Linked DNA regions of Homo sapiens: region 1 is linked to region 2. Evidence: fine-mapped expression QTL. Tissue or cell type: whole blood. Region 2 holds a variant in brackets; the other region holds the start of a gene. All regions are shown on one strand. Distances are from middle to middle.

What was found. PIP is the estimated chance that this variant, and not a neighbour inherited with it, causes the effect.
Region 1: MCOLN3 starts here. The variant in region 2 is fine-mapped to the expression of MCOLN3 in whole blood (TOPMed, PIP above 0.99).

The regions. Positions count from the first base shown.
Region 1 is chr1:85,043,825-85,054,975 of GRCh38, forward strand. MCOLN3 (mucolipin TRP cation channel 3) reads right to left here and starts at 4,676. Exons shown (of 13, transcript NM_018298.11): 1 at 4,572-4,676; 2 at 1,309-1,538. The coding sequence starts at 1,536. RefSeq lists silencers at 4,158-4,907, 4,938-5,077.
Region 2 is chr1:85,088,721-85,096,720 of GRCh38, forward strand. It overlaps DNAI3 (dynein axonemal intermediate chain 3), which reads left to right. Exons shown (of 23, transcript NM_145172.5): 8 at 1,396-1,512; 9 at 4,738-4,928; 10 at 5,711-5,835; 11 at 7,211-7,300. Among named protein-coding and RNA genes, the nearest start is that of DNAI3, 30 kb to the left of the region's middle. The variant G/A (reference allele first, on the strand shown) is at 3,207.

The sequences.
Region 1 (11,151 bases), 43 kb before region 2:
CTGACTAGCCATGTGACTTTTTTTTTTTTTTTGAGACAAGGTGTCGCTCTGTCACCCAGGCTGGAGTGCAGTGGTGTGATCACCACACCTGGCTTATTTTTGTATGTTTTACAGAAACAGGTTTTCACCATGTTACCCAGGCTGGTCTGGAACTCTTGAGCTCAAGCAATCCACCCACCTCAGCATCCCAAAGTGCTGGAATTACAGGCATGAGCCACCCTGCCTGGCCAAGCCATGTGACTTTAAAAGAGCTCTACAAACATCAGTTTCCTCTTCTGTAAAATGAGCCAGTAAGAATGTTAGAATTAAATGAAATAATGTACTGGAACAGGGTAGTCACTAAATGTTTGTTTCCCTTGATACAACACCTAGCATTAGAAACAAGCAAGAATTCTACCAACTTCATATGATTGTAAAAATTGCCTTGGTTCCCTAACAATCATAAGTGTTTGTTCTCAATAAGCAGTTAAAATTAGTAATATCCTGTTTTTTTTAATCTCTCCTTCAATACCAATTGTTTATTTACTTAGGCATTTTTCACCAACTTAGGAAGAGTAAGTAATAATAAAAATAAACCTATCACATCTATTTTTCTCACTAAAATCTGCTTCTATTTTGCCCTTTGCTTTTAGCAAGAGATAATTTGACCAACAGGAAAACATATTTTCATAAGAATAAATCACAACCAGTATATATTAAGAATCACAAAATATGGTTCCCCCTTTCCCCCAAAAAAATATTAAAAGCAGCCAAGGAAATGTGATTTAAAAGCTCCCTTTGAACTAAAAAGAGGTCCTGTGTTTCACTAGCTCCTGCCACTCCTCTTCTGTTAGTTAACTTCACATTCTTCCATTGCATGGTTCTCATGATCACAGGGTTGTGAGAATCTAAGAATTTGCCTGTAGCAGGAACCCTTTAAGTTTCTGAAGAGAGAAATTCCCAGGAAACTAACTAGGAAGGAAAAGAAAGTCCTAATGTTGGACAACACTAGTTTCCATGGCTTATTTAGAAACCAGCTGAACCTCTTCATTGGAAGCCAAATATTAGTTTTCTTTTCCTGAAAATTAATTAGATTATGTGACTAAAATTATAACTTAGCGAACGATACAAGAAAAAAACTAAGAAAAAAGAAGACAAACTCTTTCACAAATGTTGAAGACAGAAGGGTCTAAGATTGTATGTTTTCTTATCTGTTACTCTTCAACATTTTGCATATAGTTAAAAGTTATTTAAAAAAAAAACCACTGTCCATAGTTATCTTTGTAATTAAAAGAGGCTTTCACCAAACTCATGATCTGAGATGCTTACCTGGATAGTCACCATTGCAATTTTTAGAATTTGTATGGCAAGTTTCCATGGTTTTCTACCTCGAGCCCAGAACTTCTCACAGGGATTCATGAAAAAAAATTTGAGTTTTCGCCTCATCTGGTCTTCTAATAGAAGCTCCTCAGATGGAGATGTTTGCTGGTTAAAATTGCAGCGATTTTCCTCTTCATGAGAGCTGCAGCTACTCACAACTACCTCAGGATCTGCCATCTCTAGAGGAAAAAAACAACAACAACAACAACCAACATTTCCATTTAGTGAGTAAAGACACAAGTCCATATTCTTTAATATTGCAAGGAGAAGCCCATACAGAAGTCCTGGTTTCAAATAAGCACCATTGCTCTAAACTGCATTTTAGATGTTTACAGAATCAGTTCCAATGTAGGACGTCACTTTTTTATTTGTTTTAATTACAAAGTGAATTTTCACCTAGTTCAAAGTTACCAAATTCAAGGGCTGCTCCCATTAGTAAAAGATTATATGTACATATATATAGGATGTATATGTTTTCTGCCTCACTCAGTATAGTTAGAGGATCAGAGACCTGAGGACCTGGGGGAAGGACTTCAGAGGGTAGGTGGGCCTTGAAGTTATATGAAAACTTTCATATATGTGGCTGTGGACACTTTTTCCTGGGAGGTAACTAAAACTTTCACAGATTATCAAAAAATGTTTAAAACCACCGAGTTAAAGATAGCAGGGTGTAGTGTAAAGAACAAGATTCAGTTTGGTTTCTAATCCTGGTTCCATGACTTGACGTTTCTGCAATCTCAGGGAAATCACTTAGCCCTTCTGAGCCTCAGTTTCCTCTCCAGCAAAATGGGAATAACTACACCTACCCTTCTATGATTGTAGCCAGAATTAAATAGTTATGAGTGTAGAGAGCATTAAATAAAACAGTAAACAAAGCCTTTGCATAGGGTCTAGCGCTAAGCAGACTCACCTACCTAACACCCACAGCAGACAGGGTGGCTTCCTAGAAAGCCAGTAAGGTTCTTAAGGGGCAGTATGAGCCTCAGGAAACATAACTGTTGTACAAAGGGGAAAATGGGCCCTCAATTTAAGCCTAATTCCCAGTCTGTGGCATCGCTTGTAATGACTTTTTATTGAAGGCCTTATATTTATAGCATATTTTCAAAGTACTTCATATCTATTTGGGGGGGGGGGCAGGTACGTTTGAAAAGGGTTGGGTCGGGCTGGTTTTATTGTCTTCAGAATCAGTTTTTTCAAAGTGACGGAGAAGTCACTCTAGAGACTGGGATGGATCTTGGATTTTCCCTCAGACTAAGATTGATATTATACTATGGAAACCTGTTCAAAGTAAAATACCCCAAACAATGAGTAGCGTCCTTCCATACGGAATAGAAAGGCAGGCTTTATTTGACATTTTAATAATAACTTGTACTCAGCAATGAAGAAGGAAAATTGTAACCTGCATTCATACAATATCTTACAAGTCACTGGTTAGATACCATGCTGCTTTCCAAGTCTAGAACCCCACTTTTGATTCCAATTCAAGCATTCTTAGGAAGCCCAACATCTCCGAACAATAGATACTGGCTATAAAGAATAGCATGGGGAAGGTTCTTAAACTCTTGTTAATGAAAAGATTAATAAGGATACTGCTGGATGAATAAACCATAAAACATATTTACTGTATGGCAAATGCAGTACCTTCAAAATGAAATAATTATTATATAACTCATTAAAGTGTGGCTCCTGTGTGCGTGTTAAAATGCCTGTCAAAGCATAAATGCAGTAATTCTTAGGTAAAGGCATAAAGGAAAGAAAAAGTTATTAATAAATTAGGATTTTCACTTAACAGTTTTACTTCCTTCAAAAAGGCAGGATATTTTAACCAGCATTTAAGGAGACTTTATCTATAGGACTTAAAACGCAGATGATTTCATGTTGACCAAAGCTCGCATATGAACACCAACATAATGATGAAGCTGTTAATAAGCATGTTGGTGAGTTGTATATTGACACTAAGCGCTTTCCACTTTGATACAGGGAAAATTAAATTTTAAACAAACTAGCCACACACCATGTACAGTAATCCACAGGAACAAAGAGAAAACAAGCCAACCAGCATATATTCAGCACATCACAACGAGTTGTCCCGGTAGACATTTCATTCACCAGGACCAGATGCTGACCTTGGAAAAGTCAGGTTTACCCAGTCTGAAAAGCCCTTCCGAGGGTGCACTTTTAAAAACTGCAAACTGTCGGGAACCCCAGCAGCTGAAGGAGGTATTCGCAGCCAGCCACCCTTGACATTCACCCGGAGCGCCGGCGCGGGAGGCAGGGTGGGCGAAGGACCCCATCAGGAGAGGCTACCCGACGAAGGGGCCATCCGGAGAGGCTACCGAAGTATCTATCAGGCATGCTCTTAGAAGGAGCAAACGGACACACACAGGTTACCTGTTCCTGGCGGGCAGAGGCTTGATTGGAGTAAGCTGTAGAAAATTGGAGAAAGCCCGGGAGTGTATAAATAGCAAAGGCCTCCCAGTTGGCGACAAAGTTATGCAACCTCGTTTTTTCAGAAGCGCTTTCCCACTTCACCAGACACAAAACTTTAGTCTCTCCAGTCTTCTTTTTTTTTCAAACAAACAAACAACAAGGGTTGACACTTTTGTTGGGTAGTGTGTGCGAGAAAGATCTGCAGGGTTGCAGCGATGTCCCAGAGCGGTCGCTGCCATCCCCGGGCACTGCCGTGGAGCTCAGACGGCCGCAGCCCGGCTGGCGGCTGCTTTCAGCCAGCGCAGCGACCCGGGCCTGAGCCCCCACTTCCAGCCGCCCCCACCTCTAACAGGGGGACAGTCCGCCTTGAAAGGGGCCAGCCGAGCCGCGTCAAGGCCATCTGGAGCCCCGGCCGGCATCCAAGCCTTCCAGCCCAGGGGCTCCGGGCGGGGGTGGCTTCCAGCCCTCTGAGCCCTGGCCACAGGTGGGCGGCGGCCTGGAGGGGGACCGAGGAGCAGAGCACCCCCACCCGCCCAGCCCCGGGCAGGCCCGGCAGGCGCGCTCCTCCACTGACCTGCGGGCGGCTTGGGGGCGGCGCGGAACAGCTGCATCTCGCGCCCAGCTCCAGCCCGCCTGCCCTCCATGGCGCCGACTGCCCGGCCCGGCCTTCCCGCGGCGTCCCCGACAGCTCGCTGCCTCCCGGCCTCCCCGGCCCTCCCTGTGCGCCGCGGGCGCCGTTCCCGCGACACCCGACGCCCCGGGGCAGCGCCCCGCGGGCTCACCTGGGGGACAGCGGGGAGCGGCCGCAGCTCCGGTGTCCGCGGCGAGGGCGCAGGGCGAGTCAGCGAGCGACTCCAGCAGCCTCGAGCCCCGCTCCGCCCAGAGTCAGACGGGAGGAGAGCGCCCCGTCCGCCGCCCGCGCATCCTCCCGCCCCCGCCGCTTTAACTCGTGACCCTACTCCCGGCTCGGGTTCCCGCCGCGCCCTGTCGGGGGCCGCTTTTCAGGAGCACAGGTGGGACGCAGGAGGCCGTCCGGAGGAAGCCGGCGTTGTGCCCGTTCCCTGCCACCCCCACCCTATCACTCCCTTCATTTTCTCCCTGAGCAACCCGCACCGCCCTGCTCGGGTTTGCCAGGTTTGCTCCGGAGCTGCCGCCGGCGCCGGGGGGCCACCCCCTCCTGGCCAAGGCCCCTCAGGTGGTTGCCGGGCTCCGCGGGTGCGGGATCTATAGCGCCTAGCTCCGGTGAGTGTGAGGCCCCGCTGCAGCCTCCCATTCTGATTTTTGCATACAAGGTGAAATCTTGAATGTCTTAGCGTTTCAAGCCTGAACCTTGTTCCCTCCCTGGGTCTTCTAGTTTCAGACAAGTGCTGTGAAATGAGTGGACAGTCGACTAGACTCTTCTGTAGATTGGCGGCTGGGGCAGAAAGAGCCCTGGGAAACTTTTCCAAGAAATGTAAATAGAAATACCTGAAGTAGACTTTGAACCGTAATCTTTTTCTTCATAAATTATCTGTAAATATTAAACCTAATACCCCTTATCAGGATTGGATCAGGAACTTTGGTTAATTTTAATTATAATTACTTTGGATGTGTTCTGATTTTTAATTTTTACTTATTTTTTTTTTTTGGCCACGGGTAAATTTGTAAAGGTCACTGAATTTCCCTACTAGGGTATTCCTGAAATTAGATCGATACCTAGCAAACCTTTTATAAAACCTGTTTTCAAATCCTAAACCAGTATGCATGGATTACTAATAAATTTTTGCAACAGGGTACAAGAATTTTATGCTGTTCCTCAACCTGGATCCCACATACTGTGAACAAGGTAGATACCCAGAAAGGATATAATTGGCACAGTCAATTCTCAAGTGCAATTTGGAAAATATAATGTAATCTTTAATCCCCATATGCCTACACACGATGTAACGCTATCTCCTTACTTGATGGTAAGAGTTTGAAATGCTTGATTGTTCAGGAACAATCTGAACTTTGAAGAGGTTCACAGTCATAAATGATGGCACTTGCTTAACCCTCGTTTTAGCTGAGTTATAAGGACCGGTGAATAGATAAAGCCAGGTTTTGGAGTCAGACAGATGAGGGCCCAAATTCCCTTCTGTGCCACTTATTGGTCTCTAGGGAGTTACTTACCTTCTCTGAACCCCTTTTCTTTTTTATGTGCAATCTGTGAAGTTAGCCGAGAGAAAGGACGAGAGAGAGAGAGAGAGAGGGAGAGAGAGACCGAGAGAGACCGAGACCCAAGTTCAGGCAAGCCTTTATTCAACCTGCCGGCTGCTCCATTACAGACAGAGGAGGCAGCCCTGAGCTTACAAAATGAGGGTTTTATGTGGGGGAGAGAGACCCTGGAGTTGTTTGTTGGTTAACTCTGCCACATATCACCTTGTGACGTTTATGGTACCGGAGGGTGTAGGTAAAGTTTGTTTATACTTCCCACGACCTCCCACTGTGCAGTCCGGATGGTTTGTAATTGGGTTTGCTTTATAGCAGCAAGACCTGATAGGTAAAAGTCTCCTGGCTTCACCGCGGTGCCTAGATAGGGGCTTAGAAATGTAAAAAGGTTTGGGGGAAGAGGAGGGGTGGTACGGAGAGGTTTGCGGGGGTGGGGGGCGGGGGTGTTGGCAGTACCAAGAAGCTTTTTTGGGGTAGCTTGTCCCTAACACAATCTAGCTAATAAAAGGAATGGTGATTTTTAATTAATATGATACATGTAAAGCACCCATTACTATATGAGGCATATGTGATGTGCTTATAAATGCTGATTCCCCCTTTTATTTGGAAAACTTAATGAAAATATCAACCATGTTCATAAATTACAAGACTCAGTATTATTAAGATGTCAGTTTTCACCAAGTTCATTTATAGATTCAACCCAATCTCAATGAAAATTCTAGCAAACTGTTTTGTAGAAATTGACAACCTGATTCTAAAATTCCTATGGAAGCAAATGCAAAGAATCCAGAATAACCAAAGCAATTTTTTAAAAGAAAGATAAAACTGGAGGATTTATCCTACCTATATCTATAAAGCTATTTAAGCTAAACAACTTGGTACTGGTGAAGACAGACATATAGACTACACATAGGCAATGGAACAAAATAGAATCCAGAAATAGATTCACACATATATGGTCAATTGATTTCTGACAAAGATGTTAAAACAATGTAAAGGGGAATATTAAACCTTAACAATCAACATAATGATGTTACTGGCTTAAAGGAATATATTGAAACCAAATCAAAAGAAAGACAGGAAACGCTGACATCAAAGGTTTACATAAACATTCCTGGAAAGCAAGAGAGGAGTGCATAAAAGAGAAGCGGTAAAGATCTTATCAGTCAATCTTGCTTTTAACTTTTACAATGTTATAAGTTTGTGTTTCTGGACTTGTCAGTGAGTCATTCTTGTAAATAAACATCAATACATTTATAGTCATAGAATACATTTGTTTTTGTTTTTGTTTTTTGAAACAGGGTCTAGCTCTATTGCCCAGGCTGGAGTACAGTTGCTCGATCTCAGCTCACTGCAACCTCTGCGTCCCGGGCTCAAGTGATTCTCCTGCCTCAGCCTCCCGAGTAGCTGGGATTACAGGCACATGCCACCATGCCCACCTAATTTTTGTATTTTTAGTAGAGATGCAGTTTCACCATGTTGGCCAGGCTGGTCTTGAACTCCTGACCTTAGGTGATCCACCCACGTCGGCCTCCCGAAGTGCTGGGATTATAGGCATGAGCCACCCCACCTGGCCTCAACATATGTTTCTATGTAATGCTTTTGTTGTTGCTAGAATATCCAAATGGTATCTTACTATTATAACACATTTTGGTGGACGACTGACTACGTATACAACACTTCTCATAAGATTATAACAGAGTTGAAAAACTCCTATCACCTAGTGATGTAATAATGTCACCGCAATAACGTTGTAGAGCAATGCGTTATCCACCTATTTGTGGGGATGCTGGTGTAAATAAACTACTACTGCACTGCCAGTCTATAAAAGTGTAGAACATACAGTTATGTGCAGTACATAATACTTGACAATGATAATAAGCAACCATGTGATTGGCTTACATATTTACTATACTATTATCATTATTTTAGAGTATACTTCTGCTTGAAAAAAAAAAGCCAGCTGTCAAATAGCCTCAGGATGATTTCCAGAAGAAGATTGTGTTATCATAGGAGATGACACTTCCATGCCTGTTATTACCCCTGGACATCTTCCAGTGAGATAAGATGTGGAGGTAGAAGACAGTGATATTGTTAATCCTGACCTTGTGTAAGCCTATGCTAATGTCTGTGTTTTTGTCTTAGTTTTTAACAAAAAAAAGTTTTAAAACATTGAAAAATAGAAAGAAGCTTGTAGAATAAGGATATAAATAAAATATTTTTGTATAGCTGTACAATATGTTTGTGTTTTAAGCTGTGTTATTACAAAAGAAAGTTTACTCATTTTAAAAGTTTGGCCAGGCACGGTGGCTCACGCCTGTAATCCCAGCACTTTGGGAGGCCAAGGTGGGTGGATCACAAGGTCAGGAGTTCAAGACCAGCCTGGCCAATATGGCGAAACCCTGTCTCTACTAAAAATACAAAAATTAGCCGGGCTTGGTGGTGGGTGCCTGTAGTTCCAGCTACTCTGGAGGCTGAGGCAGGAGAATCACTTGAACCCAGGAGGCGGAGGTTGCAGTGAGCCAAGATTGCACCACTGTACTCCAACCTGGGTGACAGAGGGAGACTCCGTCTCAAACAAAAATAAAATAAAAATAAAATAAATAAAAGTTCATACCATTTCCATTGTGCAATGAAAAATAAATAAATGAATAAATAATTTAAAATTTTAGGCCAGGAGAGGTGGCTTATCCCTGTTTATCCCAGCACTTGAGAGGCCAAGGTGGGAGGCCTGCTTGAGTCCAGGAGATCGAGACCAGCCTGAGCAACATTGGGAGACCCCATCTCTACAAAAATTTTTAAAAATATCCAAGGATGATGGCATGTGCCTGTAGTCCCAGCTACTCTGGAGGCTGAGGTGGGAGAATCACTGTGTCCAGGAGGTCGAGGCTGCAGTGAGCCATGATTGTGCCACTGCACTCTAGCCTGGGCGACAGAGCAAGACCCTGTCTCAAAAATAAAAAGTTTATAAAGTAAAAAACTTACAGTAAGCTAACATTAATTTATTATTAAAGGAAGAAAAATGTTTAAAATAAATTTAGTGTAGTCTAAGTGTACATGTTTATAATTTATGGTAGTGTACAGTAATGACCTAGGCCTTCACGTTCACTCACTGCTTACCTACTGACTCACCCAGAGCAACTTCCACTCCTGCAAGCTTCATTCATGGTAAGTCTCCTATACAGGTGTACCATTTTTAATCTTTTTTTTTTTTTTTTTGAGACAGAGTCTCGCTCTGTTGCCCACGCTGGAGTGCAGTGGCACGATCTCAGCTCTGCAAGCTCCGCCTCCCAGGTTCACGCCATTCTCCTGCCTCAGCCTCCCAAGTAGCTGGGATTACAGCCACCTGCCACCACGCCTGGCTAATTTTTTGTATTTTTAGTAGAGACGGGGTTTCACCGTGTTAGCCAGGATGGTCTTGATCTCCTGACCTTGTGATCCACCCGTCTCAGCCTCCCAAAGTGCTGGGATTACAGGCGTGAGCCACCGCGCCCGGCCCCCATTTTTAATCTTTTATATCATATTTTGACTGTACCTTTTCTATATTTAGATATGTTTACATACACAAATACTAAACACTGTGTTCCAGATGCCTACAGTATTCAGTAAGGTAGCATGCTGTACAGGTTTGTAGCCTGGGAATAATAGGCTACGCTATATAGCCTCGGTGTATAGAAAGCTATCCCATCTACGTTTGTGTAAGTACACTCTATGATGTTCATACAACGACAAAATTACCTAACAATGCACTTGTTACGACATATCCCCATCATTAAGCTATGCATAACTGTATTTGAATACCCAATCTTGTTTTCTGCATTTTCCATAGTTTGAATATTCACTGAAGGGTTTAGTTCTTTGTAAAACAAAATATTTTTTTTGTTAAAAAAGTAAACGAGCTTATATAAAGCAACAGATACCCCAACGTCCAATCTGATAATACTTTGGAAGCACGTTTAACAAGTGAACTGACATGAAGTGCAAAATGAGAGAAATTTTCTCTCATCTGGAATATCTGTCACAAAGCAAAGATGAAATCTATCAGATAAGGAAATTGTTTTATGTGTTTTAAATTGTCACTTGAAGAATTATTTTTTAATTAAAATTTAGAATTTTTTATTTAGAATTTATTTTGCATTGATGCTTCCTTCCTTTAATGATTTTTACTATGAAATATCTATGACAGGTAGTGATCATTATCATATATAATCAAATATATACTGTTCTTCAGTATGTTGGCTGATAATAATAATCATGCTTTTATTATCTTTTTTAAACCAAAATAAACCTCTGAAACTTTTAGTATAATCCTAGCACAGAAAAGATTCAGTTTATTGTTATGGTTACTCATTATGTTTTTAAAACATGTAAAGTGTTATGAAAACTACAAAATAACTTATGATTTCAAGAATTCCAATTTTTTGCTCCTGAATCTCAAGCCAATAGATCTCTATGACATTCTTCATATCTGCTGGGTGAAAGGGAGCTTTTTTCACTCCTTATCTTCGCATTCAAAATTCCTATCTGTTTTAGAATAACAGCTCAGCTGAAAATGTCAGGTAGCCTGGGTATTAAATCACACATTTGTAAACCCAAAATACTTTTTACGTTTCTGTCTTCTTACATCCGTACCATTCATCTTTCTCCCCTTAATTTCTTCTTTTTCTCTCAACAAAATTTTTATTTATTTAACACATACATATTTAGCGAGTATTTATTGAGGACTCCTATTTTTCAGTAATGGTATTAGATACTGCCAATGAAAATATTAATAAAATATAGTTGCTGTTCTTAAGGATCTTACAGTCTAGAAGATGATTTTTTAATTTTGAGAAAATTTCAAATACAGAAAAGTACAAAAATAACAATACATTAATGCCATTCAATACCCACAACCCCCCAAATTGAACAAATTTTATATTTTCTTTTGTTTTTGGCCTTCCTAATTTATGAGGAATAAAGCATTATAAAGTTAACCAACTGATACGGTTTGGCTGTGTCTCCACCCAGATCTCATCTTGAATTGTAATCCCCATAATCCCCACATGTCAACGGAGAGACCCTGTGGGAGGTGATTGGACCATGTGGGCGGTTTCCCCCAGGCTGTTCTCATGATAGTGAGTGAGTTCTCAGGAGATCTGATGTTTTTATAAGTTTTTGACAGTTCCTCCTTCA
Region 2 (8,000 bases):
GAAGCAATAATGAATGGTTTTGCTGAAAAACAACAAAACAAATCATATTTCGAAAGTAAGAGTGACTCTTAGGCATGTTGCTACTTTGATAAAACCACCAAGCAATATATCATTTTGTTTTTTTTTTACTTAACCCTGTCTAGAGAGCAGAAATTAAAAGGTGAAGCTGAGAATTGAACCCAAGTCTCTCTGGTTCCAATACTAATATTATTTCTTTCTACCACTCTGCCTTCTGCTATGGATACTGACCTAAACAAGGAAAAAAAATGAATTATTCTAAAAACTCCCTTTACCCCTTTGTCTGATTACTCTCCATTTAATATATTACCTCTCACAGAGACATTCTGCATTGTGCTGACATTTGTTCAACAAACACAAATACTACATAATATTTTGTTGATCATTTAAAATGTGCTAGGCACTGTTTTTAAAGTTTTGCATGTATCAACACATTCAATCCTTACAATGACACTATGAACTAGCTACTTGAATAATTTCATTTAGAGATGAGAACACAGGCACAGAAGGTTAGATAATTGGCTCAGGGGTCATATAGCTAGTAAATGATAGAACCAGGCTTCAAAGCCAGGCAGCCAATCACCAGAATCCACACTCTTAATGATTGTGCCCTGTGACTTTTCCAAGCTCTACATGCCAAGATCAAGGGCTCACCCAGTCTAATACTTGAGATTGATAAAGCCCAGAGGTACAATGCCATATGAGGTGTTCACATACAGAGGCCACTAAGAGCATACTAGATGGAGCAAGACTTCCTGCCACCATCACTGCTGAAATGTATCTTATTCCTAGTTTTGTATGTTTAGAGCAGAGTTTCTCAACTTCAACAAATTGACATTTGGGGCTGGATAATTCTCTTTGAGGGAAGGCTGTCTTGTGCTTTGTAGGGTTTTTAACAGCATCCCTGGGATCTATTCACTAGACACCAGTAGCATGTCTAGGTTGTGACAACCAAAAATGTTTCTAGACATTGCCAAATGTCCCATGAGGGGGTGAGGTGGACACTGACTTAGTGAAATGAAGAGAGAGAGAAAACAATAAAGATGGCAAAATGTTAATAATTGACGAATCTGGGTGAAGGGTGTGTGGGAATTCCTTATACCCTTCTTATAACTTTTCTATAAGTTTGAAATGATTTCTAGGTAAAAATTTTACAAAAATAAGATTTTTTTGATTATGTTGGAGAGAAATTCATGTAGCCTTTGAATAGTGGTCAATATCAGTTGTCTAGGATAAAGAAAATTCAATGTATATAATTTAAATATAAAATAATATCCTAACATCATTGTCACAGAGACACACTTTTGACCTGTTGTGGCCCATATTTGCTCTTCTTTGACCTAATCTTTAGTATTGAATTTTCTTTTAATATATTAGGACATATCCTAAAAATGCTACTACGCAATATTATCCAAGAGAATTCTCAGAAGAGGAAAAAGAGACACTCAAACAATCAAAGCCTTTGGTTGATTTTCTTAACAATGCATCCATAAGGTAAAAAATTGCATATTAAATTTTAAAAATAAAACATAAAATGTATATGTTTACATAGAATAACAGGTCTAAATAAACAATTCCATATAGGGTATCTAGATAAAAAGTATGAAGACAGTTGTCAGTGTGACACATTCTACAGATTCTCAATATTTATTTCCTTTCTATTGCTAAGCAACATCTTAGCCCTATCAAGCTAAGGCCACATCAAACTGTGTGAGGAGTTGAGTGTGTGAGGATGTTTTCCTAATTGCAGATTAACATTTACTTGTATTTACCATGGTTACTTTTACGTAATTCTTTTTCTCCACTCCTCACTCCTCTTCCTCATTAACTTTTTATAGGATGAGGAGAATGCTGTGGCCATTATTATGATGATAAGTATTTGCAAAAATATCTTTGTAGATGAGAACCTGAATTTAATTCAAATGTCTTTTTGGACATTTCACTCTTATCACCAATTCCTGTGTTCCTGCACTCTTACTGGCTTTGAAAGAGAAGCATCTTCAAAATGCCCCCTAAGCTGTTAGTAGGACCCTGGGTAGAGTTCTGGGGCTTCTAAACCAGAGAAACAGCTTGACAAGTTCTCACCAAGCTGATACTAGAGTTTAGAGAAGTGGATCCACTGGAGGACAAGTCTGCCAGTTATACTCAATAGGCTGGTTTCTATTTCTTTCTAAAATTAAAAACTTGGTGGTCAAGTTCATATATAGCCCAAGTTAAACTTTTTTATTTTTAAGAAATGTCGTTGGTTCTTTCATACTGGATTAAATATCCTAAAAATTCCAACAACTCTCAAACTTGTTACTTATGCCTAGGGAGACTCTGGCTCAAAAATTCAGTTAATGATTCAGAGAGAACATTATTTGCCACTCGCAGGAAGGATGCTATAATTTTTGCTATACGGGCAATGAGATAGAAACAAGAAAACCTGAGTTTCACCCTCCCCTTATCAAAATTTAGTAGTCATTACAATTTTTCCTGTAAGAATATTCAAAATGAGAAGTTTGTTTACATATAATCAATATCCAGAGAAAACTAGATCTTGAGGGAATAAAAAAATGTTCAAAATAAATCCACATTGTATATTATCTTTAGACCTGGGCTTTTATTCTTCCCTCTGAATTTCCATGCTTATAAAGAAAAGAATAGTGGACAGCTTTATGATTCCATCCCTGAGATGTGGGAAGGAGAAGCCAGATCTATAAGAAGAAAGAGGAAAATTGGCACAGGAATTATAATAGCACTGGCCCAGAGTGGATAAGAAACCCATGTTTATATCACTGCAAACATAACTTCCAGCTTTAAAACTGCTTAAGCTTTATTCAATAGTTTTTAATTAAGGTAAGCCTGATTTTGTTCTGGAAGAAAGCCCTTTTAGAAATGGGAAATTTCTTTCTCATAGAATTTTATCTAAAACAAACTTAAGGGAAGCATTATTTGCAAAAGAAGGCAATGACATGAGATGAGAGAGAGGAACTTCAGGGGGATTCACAAAACAACTAAGAAACCTTCCTTTCGGGGTTAAAATTCCTAGACAACAGTTTTGCTAGCCTCCAATTTGTTACTCTCGGGAGCTACATGGTTCCAGGAAAGCAAGAAACCGGAAACCAGAAGAAAGATGTGTTTTCACTTCTTCCGTTTGAATTACTTCCCCGTTCTGGCTAAGGAGGTAGAATCAGGAAACCAGAGCG[G/A]AAGCCACGTCTTTAACTTTTCTCTTGAGAATTCCCTTCTCATTTGGGCTTAACCAGAAAGAAATATGATTTGGAAAATGCTTACTAATGCTTCTACTGGAAACTGTTTAAGCCTCGAGAGTCCGCTACACAGGGTTATTCAATGTTCAGTGTGCTTATGAATCACCTGAGGACTCTTGTTAAAATGCAGGTTCTGACTCAGTAAGTCGGGTGGAGCCTGCGACTCTGCATTTCTAACAGCCCCAGGTCATGTTGGTGGTCACTGGATCACACTTTAAGTGGCCAGGTCTTAGGAAAGGGGTCTATTTTGAAAGATGAAATACAAGAAGAATTTAACCAAGGGAGGACTCAATTAGGCAATGACTGGTAGTGTAATGATCAATGACAGGGGTATCAAACGGTGCCCTTTTTTATATTTTAGGAGTATCTGTTTTTACTGTTTATATTGAACTATCTAAAGGATTTTTTCTTATTTTAAGAAATTCACAATTGAGAACCACTTTTTCAACTTACCACACCTATATAAAACCAAGAAGTTTACAGTTTTGATCAGTAGGGTAAAACCTTGGGTGGCATTCTAATTGTGGGAGGGCTCTTAGCAACTTTGGGAGTATGCAGAGCTTTCAGATCTAAGCATAAAAAGGGACAATAACTATCATAGTAACTACTTTAAGACAGGAGCCTGTCAAACCAAGGTCCCTAGACTATTAGCAAATGATCCTAGCACTCAGATGGTATCTTAAAGGAGCAATGTTAGTATTTTTAGCAGGATAATTTTTCATTTTGGGGACTGTCTCATGCATTGCAGGAGGTTTGGTAATGGAATTAAACACAGTAGCACCTCCCAGGCATTGTGACAACTAAAACTACACACACACACACACACACACACACACACACACACACACACTTCTAAACTCCAATTCTTCCCTTGTTCAGAATCTCTTATTTGTTGTTTTGAATTACATATGTATTGGGGCTATCCTGTTAAGGATAAGTGATCATTTAGTACAGAATATGCCTAAGAAAACTGCCATTTGTGACAGTTGGGGCTTTCCAGGAAGCAAATGACATCAAGTTAGAGGCAGACGTTTACTGAGGATTACACTGTGAAAAATAAAGGAGGAGGAGACAGGACCGGGAAGGTAGAGCATCAGACAAATTCTCAGCCTACTCAGCAGGAGCTCCAGAGCAAAGATGCCTGCTGTGGGAGTGCTGCACAAGGAGGACTGGCCAGGCCCAGCCATCCCTGCAGCTGCATGCTCAGGCATTGGCCTGGAGAGAGTACAGCCTTGGCTTGGAAACTGAGGCAGATCATGAAGTTGCTCGAGGTTCTGAGTAACATGCCACCATGATGTTTTTTTCTCTTAAGTCATTTATTTCACATGAGGTTAATCATTATCACCAAATATAATTGAGAATTATTATTTTTTGTTCAGTATAAATGAAGGAGGAGGAGTTGCTAAGATAGTCACATTATTGGATACTAAAAACCAATATCTTAATTGCTTTTTTTATTTTTACAAATTAGTGTTGAAATAGCCCTGCAGCAAAATGAAATCATGAACACATTTATTGATGACTGGAAATACCTCGCAGAAGAAGAAGGCACCTTTGGGGACAAGACCGATACCCACCTGAAAGAGTACCAGTCCTTTACCGACCTTCATAGCCCAACGGAGAAAATGATTACCTGTGTCTCATGGCATCCAACTATCTATGGTGAGATGGAAATGATGGGGATTCCCTTTTGTGATAACATTGAAATTGTCTGTTGCTTTCATATGTAAAATTGCAAACTAGTTCAATGTCAATAAGACACCTTCCATTTGCTCTGTACTCACTAGGTACCTGCCATGTGCTTTCCACGCCCTCACTGTCATGTGTCCTCCCAACAACCCTGTAGGATACACACCTGTCATTATCTCTGTTTCACAACAAAAGGACCCAAGCTCAACTCAGGGAAGTGACTCGCCCAGGTCACCCAGATGGCATAAGGCAGAGTCTGGGTTGGGCTTGGGCCTGTTGCTCTCCCAAGGCTAAATTTCTTCCTCCTAACACTGCCTTTCTGATTACTAGACAAGAGAGGAAATGTGCCTCCTTTAAAGAGCTCAGCAGCCAAGGGAGGTAGGTAGGGATGTGCAAAGATGGAAACATGGAAAGAGAGAGGTATTTGTCCTCTTTCTTCCTCCTTTCACCCTACACTGGCCCTTTTCTCACAAAAAAGAAACAAAACAAGATTTTCTTTTCTTCCAAAATCTTCTGAGTCCCCTGTATATTTTATACTAACAGTACATGTCAGTTTGGACCAGCCAGATTTCAAGTGCTAAATAAGTAGCATGTAACTAGTGGCAACCACATTAGCCAGCAGAGCTCTAAGAAAACTCTTGCTCTCCTGTGGACAAAGTGTAAATGAAGAGTGGCTGTGTAGAAAAGCAAAAGCTAGAGACATCTCTCCATGTATAGTTGCTGCCAACTTTAATTTCTACATGTGTTTCCATCAGGGCTAATAGCTGTGTCGGTAGCCGTGCGACTTTCTTTTGAAGACAGAGTTCACTTTTCTGGTAAATTATTGCTGCAGCCATCACTGATTCTTTTCTGGAGCTTCTCTGATCCTATACATCCTCAGGTAATTAGGGAGAGTTGCCTACATAGCCTAAATTTTCAAATACTACTTTCATGTATACCTTTAGCAGTTTTTATTGCAAAGTACTTTATAATCATGTAATGTTGTAAACATTTATAAAGTTAGGCTTTCTTCAATGCAGAACTTGTCATCATTCAATTTGAGCAAAACTAAAGTTTACAATTTGTTTATTGAACAAATCAACATGCTATTTTTTTCAAAGATTGTAAGAGGAATGTTTAAACTATTTTTAAAACAAACTCTTTTATGGACTTTACTTGAATACTAATTGGTCAAATGCAAATAGATTTTAGTTTCACATGAGTTTCCTCAATTCCAAGGATCACTGGGTAATAAATAAAGGTGAATGTGTGGGAGAGCACTGGGGAGTGGTAGGGACTGCGGCCTTGGAGAGTGCATTATCCATCTCTAGGCTGGCTGCCCTCTTGTTGCCAGGTGGTCCCATTGTCAAGAGAATTGAGAAATTTGGAATTTTGTATGAAATCGCCCAATTTTAAATAGCTCAACTAAAACCAAGCCAAAACACACAAAAACCCCACTCAAACCAACCAAAACACATAGCAATTCAAATAAAATGAGGCTGAAGGCTGGGTTTGCTACACAGGGTTCTAGTTTTCATGGTCTGCTCAATAAGAGATCTGCCTAGTGGGTGGGTGGTGTATAGTGTTAGATTAAGTTATTTCAATGTTTTAAATATAATAATATTTTGTTTCTAAAAAGTATTCATAATTAAGACTTTCCCTAAAAAACCCTAGCCTCCCCTTCTTCCTTTCCCCAATTCATTTGAATTAAGGTAGTTTTACTGTAATAGATTCTAGATACTTTAATGATTATAGACCCAGAGATCAAATTGAAAGATCTCTAGCCCTTTCTTGTCAGCCACAAAAACAGAGCCACTCTCTCACTAGAGTTTTCTAACCTTTCTACCCTGTAGATCTCCTCTCCACTCCAGGAGTGCCTGGCTCAGTATTCAGCAAGCAACAAAACAGACACAGATCCTGTCCTCACAGAGCTTCCCTTCCATGGTTTTCAGGAACACTAATTTCATAGTCTTTTTGTTATAAACATTGTAACATGCTCCCAAAATAACTACAATTTGTTTCCACTGAGGGGTGGGTTGGGGAATACCTGGGTCCCCTTGAGAACATACTCACTGTCACTCGTATGGCCAATGTGCACAATAAAATTAAGCAAAAGCAGCTTTTAGTCCAGAGGCAGAACTCTGAGAATAGACTCTCTACGCACCTTGCTTATAGATAGCTATAAAATTAGACTTTTAACTGTCTTAATATTATTTTCTCGCCATGATCTTAATCTCTTTTCTCATTCTTTCATGAATTTGCTGGGTTTACTTTAGTTAATGCTGGAGAGCCCAGATGACATCTTCTGCTTCAAGTTCTGTCCGAGTGATCCTAATATCATTGCTGGAGGCTGTATCAATGGGCAGGTACTTAACAGAATTTTTTTCAGCTATGTATTAATGTAGACAACCTTTGGTAATAAGTTTTGACTTGGCAGTTCCTTGGACTTAAGGATTCAATTCAGCAGAAGGAAGGCATGCCAATTGTGTGCCAGACACCACACCAGGAAGCAGGGTATAGAGACGTGTTACACACGGTATCAGCTCCTGAGGTGTTCACGGGGTAACCCAGCTTCAAAACTGAAACAGAATTGGGTGAAATCTATTTGTGTTGCTGGGACTGAACCACATATTGTATAAGATTCCATGGAAGAACAAAAGCTACAAGCATTACTACCTCTTGGAAAAAAAGGCCTCTTCTGAAATTTCCTTGGGAGTAGGAGTTAGGGGATGATCCAGAACTTAAACAGAAATTCACTAGAAAGCATACACACATCACTGAATTTATAGGCAGATATATGTGTGTATATATATATATAGATAGATTATATATATATATAAAGATTATATATAAAGATTATATATAAAGATTATATATATATATATGTATCTCAATACCGTTTGCTTTTATCTTCTTTTTAAGTTATCTAATATCAAATTTAGATCCTATCCTCCAATATCCTGTTTCTCTAGTGAAGCAAAACAATCATAAAGCTGTTTTATGGTCAAGGTTTAAATTCATTGTGATTCAGTGGGTTTGACCATCAAAAGGGTATATGATTTTTGT